2 separate regions of the Homo sapiens genome follow, and region 1 is linked to region 2. The links come from fine-mapping of genetic effects on gene expression. Tissue or cell type: whole blood. Region 2 holds a variant in brackets; the other region holds the start of a gene. All regions are shown on one strand. Distances are between the middles of the regions.

Evidence for each region. PIP is the estimated chance that this variant, and not a neighbour inherited with it, causes the effect.
Region 1: LINC00639 starts here. The variant in region 2 is fine-mapped to the expression of LINC00639 in whole blood (INTERVAL, PIP above 0.99).

What each region holds. Positions count from the first base shown.
Region 1 is chr14:38,912,878-38,920,986 of GRCh38, reverse strand. LINC00639 (long intergenic non-protein coding RNA 639) reads left to right here and starts at 4,105. Exons shown (of 5, transcript NR_039982.1): 1 at 4,105-4,205. LOC105370457 (a long non-coding RNA gene) reads right to left here. Exons shown (of 5, transcript NR_135256.1): 5 at 1,786-1,989.
Region 2 is chr14:38,822,710-38,830,818 of GRCh38, reverse strand. The region is part of intron 4 of LINC00639 (long intergenic non-protein coding RNA 639); the gene reads left to right. Among named protein-coding and RNA genes, the nearest start is that of LINC00639, 90 kb to the left of the region's middle. The variant A/T (reference allele first, on the strand shown) is at 3,726.

The DNA of each region.
Region 1 (8,109 bases), 90 kb before region 2:
TATTATTGTATTAATTCCTTTCACACGATAAGAAAGATACAATGTAAGTTATAATGTTTCCATTTGTCATTAAAATAAACCTTCCAGAAAGAAACACATTGATGGCTTTCCCTGTGTCTGCTATACTAAGAGCATTTCAGGGTTGCTTGCTGGGATCCTCATATTTTGAAGTTATGTTAAGTGCTTTAATTTTAATCTTCCCTGGGAACTGTGGTGGACAAGTCTCTGAGTGCTGGTGAGAATTAACAACTTATATTTCTTTAAGCCATTTTGAATGCTAGTACTTTTTTTTTGCTGTGGTTATGTAATTTTTGAACTCTCTTTTTTATACAACTCATCAATATTCATTACTAATAATAGATTATTTAAAATTAACACATTTTAATTATAAAAGCAGTATACAATAAAAAATATAGATAAGCAAAATGAAGTAAAATAAAATCCATCCTTTACTATTTGGAGATAAGGATGAACTTACCAGCATTTTTATAATGTAATATATTTAAATACAAAAAGTGTACTTTTATAATATACTATACTATTAAAATAAACTGTACAGATTTTACAAAGATGAGATCACGTTATTCTGTTTCGAATTATTCTTTTCTTATTTAATAGATAGTATGTATCTTATTAGTCATTATTTTTAAATCTATCATTAAAAATAGGAATTAAACTTGTATTTTTCTCTAAAATAATACATGCTTAATGTAGACAAGTGAAAAAATACAGGTAATTACAATGGAAAAACAACTGTTAATATAACTATGCAGAAATACGTTTTTGATTTCATTTTAGTCTACATACTTCTGAGCTTTTAAAAATGAGTATATATATATAAATGTTATGTGTACATTTTTATAAACAATAACACATTTTAGATTCTGTTTTATACATGAATTTTCACTGAGCTGTGTCTATACCTTTTTTGTCTTTACACAGCTAAATCATAATTTTAATGGCTGTGCAATAACCTCATTCTATGATGTATCACCGTTTATTTACCAAATCACCTGTGTTGAACAGTAGGTCATTTTAATTTTTTTGTTATTGTTTACATTTCCTCAGTTGACCTTACAGAAGACATATTTTGACACTTGTTCAATTTCTGCAGAATAAATGGTAAGGCTTTTGAAACAGAATGCCAGATTTCCCTTGGAAAGCTTGTACTAGCTGACAGTCCTGCCAGTAGCACAGGAAGCCTGCTTCCACACACTCCATGTCCTCACTGCCCCTGGATTTTCCAGCCAGAGTGTCTTTGACTGCAGCTAATGAGAACCACGAGGTGGTATGGGTTCAACATTGACAGTTTGGTTTCAAATCTTGATTCTGTTACCCACTAGCTGTGTGACATGGCAACTTTTCTGGGCTTTCATTTCCTCATCCATATTCTAAGGATTAAATGAGATGATAGACATAATGCATTTAGAATTATCCCTGGCACATATGAAACAGTAAACAAACATTAGCTGTTTTATTTCTTACATAATTAAAATGATATAGTGATACATTGGTTTGATGTTGTCATATTGCTAGTTTGTATATTGTTTCTTAATTCAGTCCGAAGCAAAGATTTTTCTGTTTGATTCTAATCTTAAAAATAATACTAAATCAGTTCATCTTCTAAATTTTGCAACAGCTCCAAATAATACTATTCTGACCTCAGATATGAAATGTAACATTACCTTGCAGTGACTAATCTTGCATACTGTAGGATGAACTTCTGAGATTAAACATCTCCAGGAAAGCTCATTAATTTGGGAAAAGAAGAGCAGGTGAGGAGAATTTGCTTTTAAAAAGTTTTAATAGCCATAATAATAATTTATTTACAGAATCAAGTACAAACTCTAAGACTTCATAACTCTAAATACATTGCAATGCATTTTCGAATAACGCAATGTGGCTGACAATGGCTGAGGCGACGGGCAGACTAATCAAGTGCAGAAATTGGTGATTGTTTTCATAGCACATGCCAGACTGCATCTCCAGCTGGAAATTCCATAAAAGAAATAAATAATAGTATCACCCTTGGGTGCACTACTGAAAATACAATATCTGGTTTTGTGAGTGCCAGTCCATTCTGCTCAGACACTGGTACCATACTATTGTTTCAGAGGTATCATAGTACCGTCACAGTACTGTCTCAGACAAAATGGGATACTTCAGAGAAAAGCAGCCAAGAGAACTAAAGTCCTATCAGTTAAGGAAGAGTAGAAGAAATCTGGAGTGTTCAGCCTGGAAAAGATTTAGGGGATCGTGGTGGCAGATTTAGAATAGTTGAGCAATGAGACTTGCTCTCTCTCCTTGGGTGGAAACTGGATAAATGGACAGAAGTTACAAAGAAGCAGATTCTGGTTATTAAGGTTCAATGTAAAGAAAAGCTAAATTAGCACTATAATGCAAATAGCTTTACGTATTCCTTCCACAAGGCCACATCAGTTGTATTGTGGGTTGTGTGTGTTCGTGTGTGTGTGTGTATTTAACACTTATTCTAAAAAGCCAATGTATTTAGGGGTTCTGAGGAATTTATAGATCTAGTAAACTGTGGGCCTTTTAATGCATAATTTGTGAACTAATCAATTTTCTCATTTTAATACAACCTCCCTCCCTCCCTCTTTTCCTTCCTTCCTTTCTTCCTTCCTTCCTTCCTCCTTTTCCTCTGTTCCTTTCTTTTCTTTTCTTTTTTTTTGTTATACTTTAAGTTCTAGGGTACATGTGCACAATGTGCAGGTTTGTTACATATGTATACATGTGCCATGTTGGTGTGCTGCACTGGTTAACTTGTCATTTACATTATACTACAGGGCTACAGTAACCAAAACAGCATAGTACTGGCATAAAAACAGACACATAGACTAATGAAACACAATAGAGAACCCAGAAACAAACTCATACATCTACAGTAAACTTGTTTTCAACAAAGGTACCGAGAATATATGTTGGAGAAAAGGCAGTCTCTTCAATAAGTGGGGCTTGGAAAACTGGATATCCATAGGCAGAAGAATGAAACTAGACCCCTATCTCTTGCCATATACAAAAGTCAAATTAAAATTGATTAAAGACTTAAATCTAAGACCACAAGCCATGAAATTACTAAAAGAAAATAGCCTACCTCAGCTTCCCACATGCTAGGATTATAAGCATGAGCCACTGTGCCCAGTGATACAACATTTATGACTGCAAAGTAACTCATCTCCCCTTTGCAGTTAACAGCACTTTGTGGGGAGATAATTTGAGACCATGTTGGTTGTCATCAAACCTTCACTCAGATTCAGCATCATTTGATGCTTTCTTCTTCAATCAACTACTACTATAATAGTTGCCAAATAATGACCTTCCAATTCTACCTTTCCTTCTGCATACAGTAATTAGCATTCTTATGTAAGGAATAATTATTTGTTTGTTTATGTAATTTGAACTCATGAATTCCTAGTTTATTTAATGGGCTATAATCTGCTATTATCATTTGTTTATTTTTTAAAAGTTTTATTTTAAGTCCAGGGGTATAAATGCAGGTTTGTTACATAGGTAAACTTGTGTCATGGGAGTTTGTTGTACAGATTTTGTCACCCAGATCTTAAGCCTAATACCCATTAGTTATTTAATTATTAGTTATTTTTCCTGATTGTCTTCCTTCTCCCACCCTCCAGCCTCTGAAAGGCCCCAGTGTGTGTTGTTCCTCTCTGTGTGTCCATGTGTTCTCATCATTTAGCTCCCACTTATAAATGAGAACAGGCAGTATTTGGTTTTCTGTTCCTGTATTAGTTTGCTAAGGATAGTGGCCTCCAGTTCCATCTGTGTTCTTGCAAAGGACATATCTCTTTCTTTTTTATTACTGCATAGTATTCCATGGTGTATATTGATCACATTTTCTTCATCCAGTCTACTGTTGGTGGACATATAGGTTGATTCCATGTGATATGGTTTGTCTCTGTGCCTCCACCCAAATCTCATCTTATAGCTCCTATAATTCCCATGTATTGTGGGAGGGACCCAGTGGGAGATAATCAAATCATGGGGGTGGGTATTTCCCATACTGTTCTCATGATAGTGATGGGTCTTACGAGATTTGACAGTTTTAAAAACAGGAATTTTCCTGAACAGGGTCATTTTTTTTTTTTTGCCTGCTGCCATCCATGTAAGATGTGATTTGCTGCTCCTTGCCTTCTGCCATAATTGTGAAGCCTCCCCAGCTATGTGGAACTGTAAGTCCAATAAACCTCTTTCTTTTGTAAATTGCCCAGTCTTGTGTATGTCTTTATCAGCAGCAAGAAAATGGACTAATAGAGTAAATTGGTAGCAGTAGAGTGGTGTGCTGCTGAAAAGATACCTGAAAATGTGGAAGTGACTTTGGAACTCGGTAACAGGCAGAGGCTGGAATGGTTTGGAGGGCTCAGAAAAAGACAGGAAAATGTGGGAAGGTTTGGAACTTCTTAGAGACTTGTTGAATGGCTTTGACCAAAAGCCTGATAGCAATATGGACAATAAGGTCTTGGCCGAGGCTGTTTCAGATAGAGATGAGGAACTTGTTGGGAACTGGAACAAAGGTGACTCTTGTTATGTTTTGGCAAAGAGACTGGTGGTATTTTGCCCCTGCCCAAGAAATCTGTGGAACTTTGAACTTGAGAGAGATGATTTAGGGTATCTGACTGAAGAAATTTCTAAGCAGCAAAGCATTCAAGAGGTGACTTGTGTGCTGTTAAAGGCATTCAGTTTTATAAGGGAAGCAGAGCATAAAAATTCGGGAAATTTGCAACCTGATAATTTGATAGAAAAAGAAAACCGGTTTCCTGAGGAGAAATTGAAGCTGGCTGTAGAAATTTGCATAAGTAATGAGGAGCCAAATGTTAATCCCCAAGACAATGGGAAAAATGTCTCCAAGGCATATCAGAGGTCTTCATGGCGGCCCCTCCCATTACAGGCCCAGAGGCCTAGGAGAAAATGCTCTCGTGGGCCAGCCCCATGGTCCCTGTGCTGTGTGCAGTCTAGGGACTTGGTGCCCTGTGTCCCAGCCACTCCAGCCCTGACTAAAAGGGGCCATGGTACAGCTTGGGCTGTTGCTTCAAAGGGTGGAAGCACCAAGCCTTGGTAGCTTCCATGTGGTCTTGAGCCTGTGGGTGCCCAGAAGTCAAGAACTGAGGTTTGAGACCCCCTGCCTAGACTTCAGAAGATGTATGGAAATGGTACCAGCTCTTCTTTTTCTTTCTTCTTCTTCTTCTTCTTTTTTTTTTTTTTTGAGACAGTGTCTCACTTTGTCAACCAGTCTGGTCACAAACTCCTGCCTGGCCCCCCCAAGTAGTTGAGACTATAGGCATACACAACCATGCTCTACTAATTTTTTGTATTATTTGTAGAGATGGGGTTTTGCCATGTTGCCCAGGATGGTCACAAACTCCTGAGCTCAAGTGATCTGTCCACCTTGGTTTCCCAAAATGCTGGGATTACAGGTGTGGGCCACTGTGTCTAGCCTTTGTATCAGCTCTTCTTTGTACATCTGCTAGAATTCAGCTGTGAACTTGTCTGGACCTGGGCTTTTTTTGATTGGTAGGCTATTTATTACCACCTCAATTTCAGAACTTGTTATTGGTCTACTCAGGGATTCAATTTCTTCTTGGTTCAGTCTTGGGAGGGTATGTGTGTCCGGGAATTTATCCCTTTTTTCTAGGAAGGGTGTGTGTGTCCATGAATTTATTCATTTCTTCTATATTTTCAAGTTTATGTGCATAGAGGTGTCCATAATATTCTCTGATGGTTGTTTGTATTTCTGTGAGTTCAGTGGTAATATCCTCTTTGTCATTTCTGACTGTGTTTATTTGAATCTTCTCTCTTTTCTTCTTTATTAGTTTAACTAGTGGTCTATCTATTTTATTAATTTTTTCCAAAAACTAGCTCCTGGATTCATTGATCTTTTGAATAGTTTTTCATGTCTCTATCTCCTTCAGTTCAGCTCTGATTCTGGTTATTGCTTCTCTTCTGCTGGCTTTGGGATTTGCTTGGCCTTGGTTCTCTAGTTCTTTTAGTGGTGATGTTAGGTTGTTAACTTGAGATCTTTCTAACTTTTTGATGTGGGCATTTAGCACTATAAATTTCCCTCTTAATACTGCCTTAGCTGTGTCCCAGATATTCTGGTACATTGTATCTTTGTTCTTGTTAGTTTCAAAGAACTTCTTGATTTCTGCCTTCATTTCATTGTTTACCCAGAAGTCCTTCAGGAGCAGGTTGTTCAATTTCCATGTAGCTGTGTGGTTTTCAGTGAATTAATTTCTTTCTTTCTTTTCTTTTTTTTGAGATGGAGTCTTGCTCTGTCATGCAGCTTAAAGTACAATGGCTTAATCTCAGCTCACTGCAACATCCTCCTCCTGGGTTCAAGCAGTTCTGTCTGCCTCAGCCTCCCAAGCAGCTGGGATTACAGATGCCCACCACTACACCTGGCTATTTTTGTATTTTTAGTAGAGATGGGGTTTTGCCATGTTGGCCAGGCTGGTCTTGAACTTCTGACCTCAGGTGATCTGCCTACCTTGGCCTCCCAAAGTGCTGGAATTATGCTCACGCCACTGTGCCTGGCTGTGAATTTCTTAATCCTGAGTTCTAATTTGATTGTGTTGTGGTCTGAGAGACTGTTTATTATGAATTTCAGTTCTTTTGCATTTATTTGTTGAGGAGTGTTTTACTTCCAATTATGTGATCAATTTTGGAGTAAATGCCATGTGGCATCAAGAAGAATGTAGATTCTGTTTTTGGTGAGGGTTCCATATACATCTATCAGGTCCATTTGCTTCAGTGCTGAGTTCAGGTCTTGAATATCTTTGTTAATTTTCTGTCTCAGTGAGCTGTCTAATATTGTCAGTGGAGTGTTAAAGTCTCCCACTATTATTTTGTAGGAGTCTAAGTCTCTTTGAAGGTCTCTAATAACTTGCTTTATAGATCTGGGTGCTCCTGTGTTGGGTGCATGTATATTTAGGATAGTTGTTTCCTCTCGTTGAATTGAACCCTTTACCATTATGTAATGTCCTTCCTTGTCCTTTATGGTCTTTGCTGGTTTAAAGTCTGTTTTGTCAGAAACTAGGATTGCAACCCCTCCTTTTATTCTGTTTTCCATTTGCTTGGTAGATTTTTCTCCATCCCTTTATTTTGAGCCTCTGTGTCTCATTGCATGTAAGATGGGTCTCTTGAAGACAGCGTACCTATGGGTCTTTATCCAGCTTGCCACTCTGTGTCTTTTAATTGGGGCACTTAGCCTATTTACATTTAAGGTCAGTATTGATATGTGTGGATTTGATCCTGTCATGATGTTAACTGGTCATTTTGAAGACTTACGTGGTTACTTTATAGTGTCACTGGTCTGTGTATTTCAGTATGTTTTTGTAGTGGCTGGTAATAATCTTTCCTTTCTATATTTAGTGCTTCCTTCAGGAGCTCTTGTAAGGCAGGTCTGGTGGTAAAAAAAATTCCCTCATCATTTGCTTGTCTGAAAAGGATCTTATTTCTCCTTCGCTTATGATGCTTAGTTTGGCTTGATATAAAATTCCAGGTTGGAATTTCTTTTCTTTTAAAATGTTGAAGATTAGCCCCTAATCTCTTCTGTCTTGTGGGTTTCATCTGAGAGGTCCACTGTTAGTCTGATGGGCTTCCCTTTGTAGGTGATCTGGCCTTTCTCTCTAGTTGCCTTTAACATTTTCTCCTTCATTTCAACCTTGGAGAATCTGAAGATTATGTGTCTTGGGGATGAGCTTCTCATGGGGTATCTTACTGGGGTTCTATGCATTTTCTGAATTTGAATGTTGGCCTCTCTAGCTAGGTTGGGGAAATTCTCATGGATAATATCCTGAATTATGTTTTCCAAATTGGTTCCATTCTCCCCATCTCTTTCAGGTTCACTGATCAGTTGTAGATTTGGTCTCTTTACAAAATCCCATATTTCTTGGAGGTTTTGTTCATTCTGTTTCATTCTTTTTTCTCTGGTCTTGTCTGCCTGTCTTATTTCAGAAACACAGTCTTCAAGCTCTGAAATTCTTTCCTCCACTTGGTCTATTCTGCTATTAATCCTTGTGATTGCATTAAGAAATTGTTTTATTGTGTTTTTCAGCTCTATCAGGTTAGTTACATTCT
Region 2 (8,109 bases):
ATACTCAAATGAAAAATTTTATCTTTCAGTTCTTTTGTTAAAATGTAAAATTTTATTTTATATTTTAAATTTGAAGACTGCTTTATTGTTCACTGAATTTTCTTTTTGAAACATAGCATCCTGACTTTGTTTTATGACTGTAATGCTCTCTTAATTCCTGTGAGGTTATTTATTACAAATGACTGCTGCTTCTCTCCATATTGCTTTTCTTTGCTGAGTTCTGTTTTTGTTAAAATTTTTGTTTGTTTGTTTAGGTCTTTCATGTTGAAGCTTTCCTCAAAAGGCTAACATGCTTGGCTTACTGTTTGTATTTAAAGAGTGAGGCACTAAGAATCTGACTGAGACACTAAAATCTGGCTGGGCTTATTGATTGGGCAAAGATCTAGTAGTTTATGTGGGAGAAGACACCCAGCTCTCAATATTAGTTCTTTTCCCTTGAGCTGATCAAGCTCTCCAGAAAAGAATTCCCCAATTTTCCGACTTCTAGTATTTTACAAGTTGATAGGGAGAAGGAGATCGATGGTTTAATTATCTAGAGTAAACCTCTCCTTTCCTGATGAAATAGTGTATGAGAAGTTTTCTGGCTGGATGGGGTGGGTGAAAGGGTGGGAAGATAACTGTCCTCTATATAGGTTTTCAGCCACACTCTTGTTTTTAGTCCCACTCTTCACCCTTCACCCTCTGTAGTAAGCAGTTTCTCAAATTCCTCATGCTTCCTGGGATTCTGGAGCACCAACTAGCTTCCTTGTATAGTGGCTTCCCAGTTCCACGCACTTAGGTTTCATTTCCTCTGCTTTGCTAGTTAACACTGGCCCATCTACTTTCTGTCTTCCAAAATTATAATATCTCTTATCTGTTGTTATCCCCTTTACTATTCTGTTATTATTCTGGTGATATTTTAGGATGGAATAGAATAAAGCAGGTATATTTAAACTACCATGTTTGATGAGTAGCCTCACTAGGAAGTTGCAAAGACATTGTTACATTGAAAGCCTCAAGGATTCCACACTTGAGAATAGATGGTTCAACTGTTTTTGATGCCAGTAGAGTAGGGATCTTACCACCCTTTGTTCATTTCATCCCACACAGTACAGATGTACCAATAATTCTTCCTACCTGCCAGATATGCTGATAATTTTCCTTACCCACCAGATGTCCACAGTCCCACCTCCCTTTCTTGGAGTACATTAGCACAAGCTGATGAGGTTTAAGGAAAATAGTCCACACAGGGCAATCAGTGGTTGAGGTGCTGGATGATAACGAAGTGAAGTTCTGAGCATGTAGGTCAATAAGAACAATTGGTGTCATTGCTGGGCACACAAAATGGGACATTCTTGCTGAGAGTAAGGGCTGGGCATTCTGCCTGAGCAACTCACTTTCTAGTCAGCTTCTGGGCTTAATGGTCCTTTGTCAGTTACTCTTTCAACTCCTATCAGGCTGTGGCCCTTTACCTTCCTTGAACAACTTCCTAAGGACTACTTCCAGACTTTGTAGGTTGCCTTGTACTCACTGCCCCATTTCTATTGCTCCTTGTCCATTTCTTCTGTTTATCTAGGGGAACTCTTTGTTTCTCTAAGGGGTACATCCTTATTTCTACTGTCTTCTCAAATTCAATCATCTTGTTCTTTAGCATTTGATTTATTGGCTCATTAAACTTGGAACCCAAATTACTAGCAACCTCAAAACAAGTTTTCTTTCTAGGTTACTGGTCTAATGTTTAACTTATTTTAGGTAACTGACCTAATGTTTAAATATATAAATTCTATTGCACCAAAAAAGGGAAGAAAAACCACCAGTCAGACCTCCATCTTGAAACAGTCCAATGTTTATATGTTGTCATGGACCTTTGATGACTTAAAATTGTGTCTCCGTCCAAGTCATTTGGAACTCTTGAAATAGTCAGCTAGCCAAAAGTTATTTTTAAGTGCTAATTTTGTGCCAGCTTTTGGAAAAACAAAAGTAAATAGGAAGGAAAAGATTTCTTGCTCAAGAAGAACAAGAGTTCTAGTTTGAGAGTTAGGCAATGAGCATCTAAACCAAAAATGTATGTAAGAGTACGAGAGAGTTAGGTTTCAAAGATGGTAGTCTCTAGAGCAAGATTATGGGCTAGAGATCTTAGGAAGTGCAGAAACGTCAAAAAGAGGAAGAATAGCAGCATATTCAGAAGGTGAACCCTGTAACTTGGGAAATCCAGCTGAAACCACAGATGCTGATTTCCTATTTGAACTGAACCTGTCTTTTTTCTTTTGAGACAGGCTCTTATCTCTGTCACCCAGGCTGGAGTGCAGTGGCACAATCATGGCTCACTGCAGCCTTGATCTTCTGGGCTCAGATGATCCTCTCACCTCAGCCTCTCAAGTAGCTGGGATGACAGGCATGTGCCACCACCCCTAGCTAAGTGTTTTGTAGAGATGGGGTTTCACCATGTTGCCCAAGCTGATCTTTAACTCCTGGGCTCAAGTGGTTCACCCACTTCAGCCTCCCAAAGTGCTGGGATTACAGACACGAACTCTCATGCTCGCCTTGTTGTTTCTTAAAAAAATCACATTGCTGAGCATAAGAGGAAAAATTGAATCTTTTTCCTATAATAAATCAATCGCTGGTAAAACTTAAAATGAAGAGCTAAAAGTTCTTCCAGATAACACATAAATGTCTTTGCAGGAAAGTATCTCACTATCAAATCAATCTATGCAGTTAGGCCAGGTAATTCTCCTTTCTAAGCTGATTTTGTGGCTGAACTTTTATTGTATATTGAAGGTGATAAGTAAGATAAAGGAAAGACAGTTTGGATGAGGATAGCATTCAGCATTGTGTTCAGTTTATGCAGTTAGATTTTTTTTTCTATTTTGAAATCTTATTTATTCTTTCAAAATGCTTTTTAGGAAAACATTTGAAATAGATGTTTTTATTATCCAAGGCGCTTGTGATGTGGCAGGTTTTCTAACTGTGGTCAGATTCAGATGGTGAATAGTTCTTCATAATAACACTGATGTTTGGTGTGCCAGTTTCTTTTTATGTAGTTATAATGGATATCGTTTTTGTTCATTTTCCCCTTGTTTCCCTCATCCTATGGTATTTTTTACCATTCACCTCCCAGTATAGTATGAAAAAAATTATCTCCTGAATCACCTGTGTCTCTCAACAGGTCAGTTACGATTTGGTCAACTTGGAAACTATCCATAGAGCTAACCTGAATGCTTTGGGCCAGTAACTCCACTTAGTTCTCAACTGCAATGAGGGATTTCTATTTGATTGAAGTGTGGAGGAAAGGCTCCGAGCCAGGGGGAACACAATTGCTGACAGACTGGCATGATAAAGGCCCTAATGAATGCACTTTATAGAGCACAAAGGTAGTGTCTTTTTTGAGTCAAAATTTGGAGTCTGACTCAGTTCATATCCAGTCTCTGTCACTTGCCAGTTGTGTGACTTTGAGCAAGTCCTTGCTGAACCTCGATTTCTTCATCTGTAAAACAGACACCTTAATGTATCTGCTTTACAATGATGCTATACTCTTTAAATAAGGTTATATGCAAGATACTGAATATATATAATAGCACAAAATAGGTGCATGATAAGTTAAAGACAAAAATAGAGAGCTGTAGATACTAATACTATTCTCATTTTCAGATTTTTACTTGATAATGATGAAAACACTTCAAGGACATTGGCTAAATGTTTAAAACAGGCAAGTTGGGCAATAGAACCTAATTTAAAAAAAGACAGGA[A/T]GGTAGTGGACAGAGCAGCATTGCATAAGCAGTCAGATAGCAACTCTTCCTTGTAGTCTGAAGCAGATTTACTAACATAAATATTTGAATATTTTGAGTATTCCTTAATAAGTCAGGCATCCATGACTGACTAAGCATCATTAATACAAAGTATCTTATGTATCCTTAGTACTTAAAAGTTGTATTATTAAAGGGAAAATAAAATTGGAATATTGCAGAGGAAAAGTTATTCATAGGTTGACATAAAAGACATAAAATCTTGTAGTGCATAAGGTTTAATAGTTCTCTTTTTCATAAATCATGAAAAGGGCTTTTCTTCTAATTTGATGGACCATTTCTCTTTCTCCTTCTCCATCTCAGTCTGGTGTAGCACTTGGTGGTGTCCAATGAATATTCATGATGACCGATTTCTTCCCAGCGGCAGCACTACATGTAGAAAGAGAGGTTCTCACTGATCGCTTCTGATCTGTAGAGTACAATTTAAAAACCAGCCTGGTTAATCCACAAACATAAAACTTACCTGTTTTCACAAAACATTGTATTTAGAGTACTAAGATCTGTAAATTGTTATTTTTTTTCTTTCAAATATAGCAATCACATTTTAAAAAGGAATTTTCTGGGTAATTAAAGTAGTTCACCTACTTGCACTAAGCGTTGGTTAGGAAGGCAGCCTTGTGTACAAAGGGCTTTGTGTTTATTCTGTTTCAATGTATGGAACCACAAGGATTTTTTGATTAATTTTCTTTTAGAATTGTTTGTAAATTCAGTATGTACTTGATATTAGGATTTGGTGGAACCACTGCAGAAGGTTTTGAAAGAGCTTCACGATGCCAATGTAACAACTAACAAAATAATTAAATCAGCAGCTGATTATATAATCTATTTACTTAATGGACATAGGATAGATTTTAAAATGCAGATAATGTAAAACATTCACAATTCAATCAATTCTGAACTTATAAACATTGTCTTGGATTCAGGATGTTCCAACTGAGGAGAGATGCTTCTCTGTTATGCTAAGACTCAGGCTCAGGCACACTGAATTTGAAGTAGGTAAGAGGAAGGGAAGGTGAAGGGAGAGAAATGGAGAGACAGGTTGAGCAGCAATTGAGTAGGAAATGCGAGATCTAGCAAAGTCGGTGTGCATTGGTGAGGTGAAGTGTAAATGTCTAAAGAATTTCAGATTCCCTGGTGAAAGGTGCTGTTGCAATAAAAAGCAAAGAGGTGTGAAGTGTGTTGGTACTGGCATGCATGAACATTTACAGTTATTTTAAACACTTTCAAAACACCCTGCCTCCCGTTGCTTTAAAAAAATCTTATTTATTTATTTTAATTGTGTGTGGAGGGCTGGGGGCATTAGGGAATGGAGAGCCTTTGTCAATAAATTCTTAGTTCTCTGATTATAAATAGAGGCACACCAGAGTACCATGTTTTAATTAGAAACCTGGGACCAGAGAGGATTACCTCAGGAATACATTTATTTTCAGCTCACGGAGCTTATAGGATGATCTTATTATTGCAGAAAGCAGTGAAAGAAAGAAGGCTGTGACAGAAGCAGATATCTTGAATAAGAAGAAAGTTTAGAGAAACTTCCCTGAATCAAAAGTTGATTGTTGTTTGCAAAATATATCTTAAAGACAAATCTAGTTAATATTGGGTTTGAAGATTTCATAACATTTCTCAGATAATAGGCTGAAAGAAAATGTATTACCAGTCTGACTGAAAAAGTGTAGCTTGTAATTATTTCTATTTCTTAACAATAACTTGCTCTTACAAGTTAGAAGGGAAAGAGAATTTACCAATATAAGTTTGATTTTATATCAATAAAATTAGAAAATACTTCAAATAATACTGACAAAATATTTTTTGTCACATAAATTTAACACCATGACTGATTTGCCTCAGTTTTTAAAAATTATCTTTAAATAAATTAATAATCTTAGCCCTCCTTTGTGTCCTTCACTGCTATAATGTGAATATGTCCTCCAAAACCCATGTGTTGAAAGCTTTATCTGCAGTGCAATAGTGTTGGGAGGTGGGGAGTTTTGGGAAGTGTTTAGGTAATGAGGACTCTACCCTTATGAATGGATTAATGCCATTATAAAAGGGCTGGATGAGCGGACAACAAATATAGGAAAAAATGCTCACATCACTCATCAGAGAAATACAAATCAAAACCACAATGAGATGCCATCTCATACTAGTCAGAATGGCTATTATTAAACAGTTAAAAAAAAAGATGCTGGTGAGGCTCCAGAGAAAGAGGAATGATTATACACTGCTGGTGGGAATGCAAATTATTTCAGCCACTATGGAAAACAATTTGGAGATTTTGCAAAGAACTTAGAACTCCTTTTCGACCTAGTGATTCCATTATTGGGTATGTACCCAAAGGAAAATAAATTTTTTCTACCAAAAAGACACATACTAGTATGTTCAATAGTGAAGACATGGGATCAACCCAGATGCCCATCTGTGGTAGACTGGATAAAGAAAATGTAGTACATATACATCTTGGAATACTATGCAGCCATAAAATAAAGAAATCATGTCATTTCCAGCAACATGGATGCAACAGGAGGCCATTGTCCTAAGTGAGTTAATTCAGGAACAAAAAATCAAATACTGCATGTCCTCACTTATAAGTGGGAGCTAAGCATTGGGTACACATGGACATAAAGATGAGAACAGTAGACTGTGAGGACTACTAGAAGGGAGAAAGGGAGGAGGGCGAGGGTTGAAAAGTTACCTGTTGGGTACTATGCTTACTACCTGGGTGGTGGGATCATTGGTATCCCAAACCTCACACAATATACCCATGTAACAAACCTGCACATGTATTCCCTGAATCTAAAATAAAAGTTGAAATGATATTTAAAAAAGGGGCTTGATGGAGAGAGTTTGTCTCTTTTTTGCCCTTCTACCACTATACTAAAAAGAGTTTCCAACAATTTATTTCTGAACAGGCATAGAAATTCCCATGAGGTAAACTTAAATGCAAGAGGCAGTGTTTATACTAAAAAATTTGAATATAGAATAATGGCATTCACCTAGATAATTCTGGACAATATAATATACTAATAATGAAAAGAATTTGTTTTTGAAAAACAATTTGAATTACATGGAAAATTTTCTAATTCTGAGTTAACTTGTGTATCCACAATCATAGAAGTGGTCTACTTAGTCACAATTATTTATATCTACAGTCCAATAGAAACAGAATGTGAGCCATAAATCAGAGTCACATATGTCATTTAAAATTTTCCAATGGCCACATTAAAGTGGTAAAAAGAAACAGGTGAGATTAAATCTAATTACATGTTTTATTGAACTCAGTACATCTAAAATATTATTTTAACATATCAGTTTAAAAACTATTGAGATATTTCACATTACTTATAAAATACTAAGTGTATTAGTTCATTTTCATGCTGTTATGAAGAAATACCCCAGACTGGGTAATTTATAAAGAAAAGAGGTTTAATTGGCTCACAGTCCCACATGGCTGGGAAGTCCTCCGGAAACTTACAATCATGGTGGAAGGCATCTCTTCATAGGGTGGCAGGAGAGAGAATGAGTGCCAGCAGGGGAAATACCAGATGCTTATACAACTATTAGATCTCATGAGAACTCACTCGCTATCATGAGAACAGCATGGGGGAAACCGACCCCATGATTCAATTACCTCCCACTGGGTCCCTCCCACAACACGTGGGGATTATGGGGATTATACTTCAAGATGAGATTTGGGTGCAAACACAGCTAAACCATATCACTAAATCTTTGAAATCTGATGTAAATTTTATACTTATAAAACATCTCAATTGGGATTAGCCATATTCTAAGTGCTCAATAATTATATGAGGTTTATAGCCATTATATTGGACAGTGTAGCTCTGTATCATCTGACATGATAGAGTGCCTTCTACACTTAATTGTCTGTGTGGTTGTGTAGATCTACAAGCACAGAGCTGAACAGGATCCCAAAGTAGCTAGGTTGGTATTTTTTTCTTTGTAAAGAAGCTTGCATACTAGTACTACAAAAAATGAAAAATTAAAAAAAAAGGATCTGAAATTTGAACTGTTTTATGCTGCTAGATAGATGTGGTGATTGCTGAAAACATCAATTTTTAAAAACATTAATATGGTATCATTTGTAGAGTTAACAAAGAATAAAATACAAGGTTGCTTTATGGACTTGAATGGACATTTCTCCAAAGAAGATATATGAGTGGCCAATGGGCACATGAAAAGATACTTAACATCACTAGGAAATCATTAGGGCAATATGAATCAAAGCCATAATGCAATATCACTTCACACCCATTAGGATAGCTATTATGAAAGAAAAAGAAACAGAAAACAGGTATTGGTGAGGGTATAG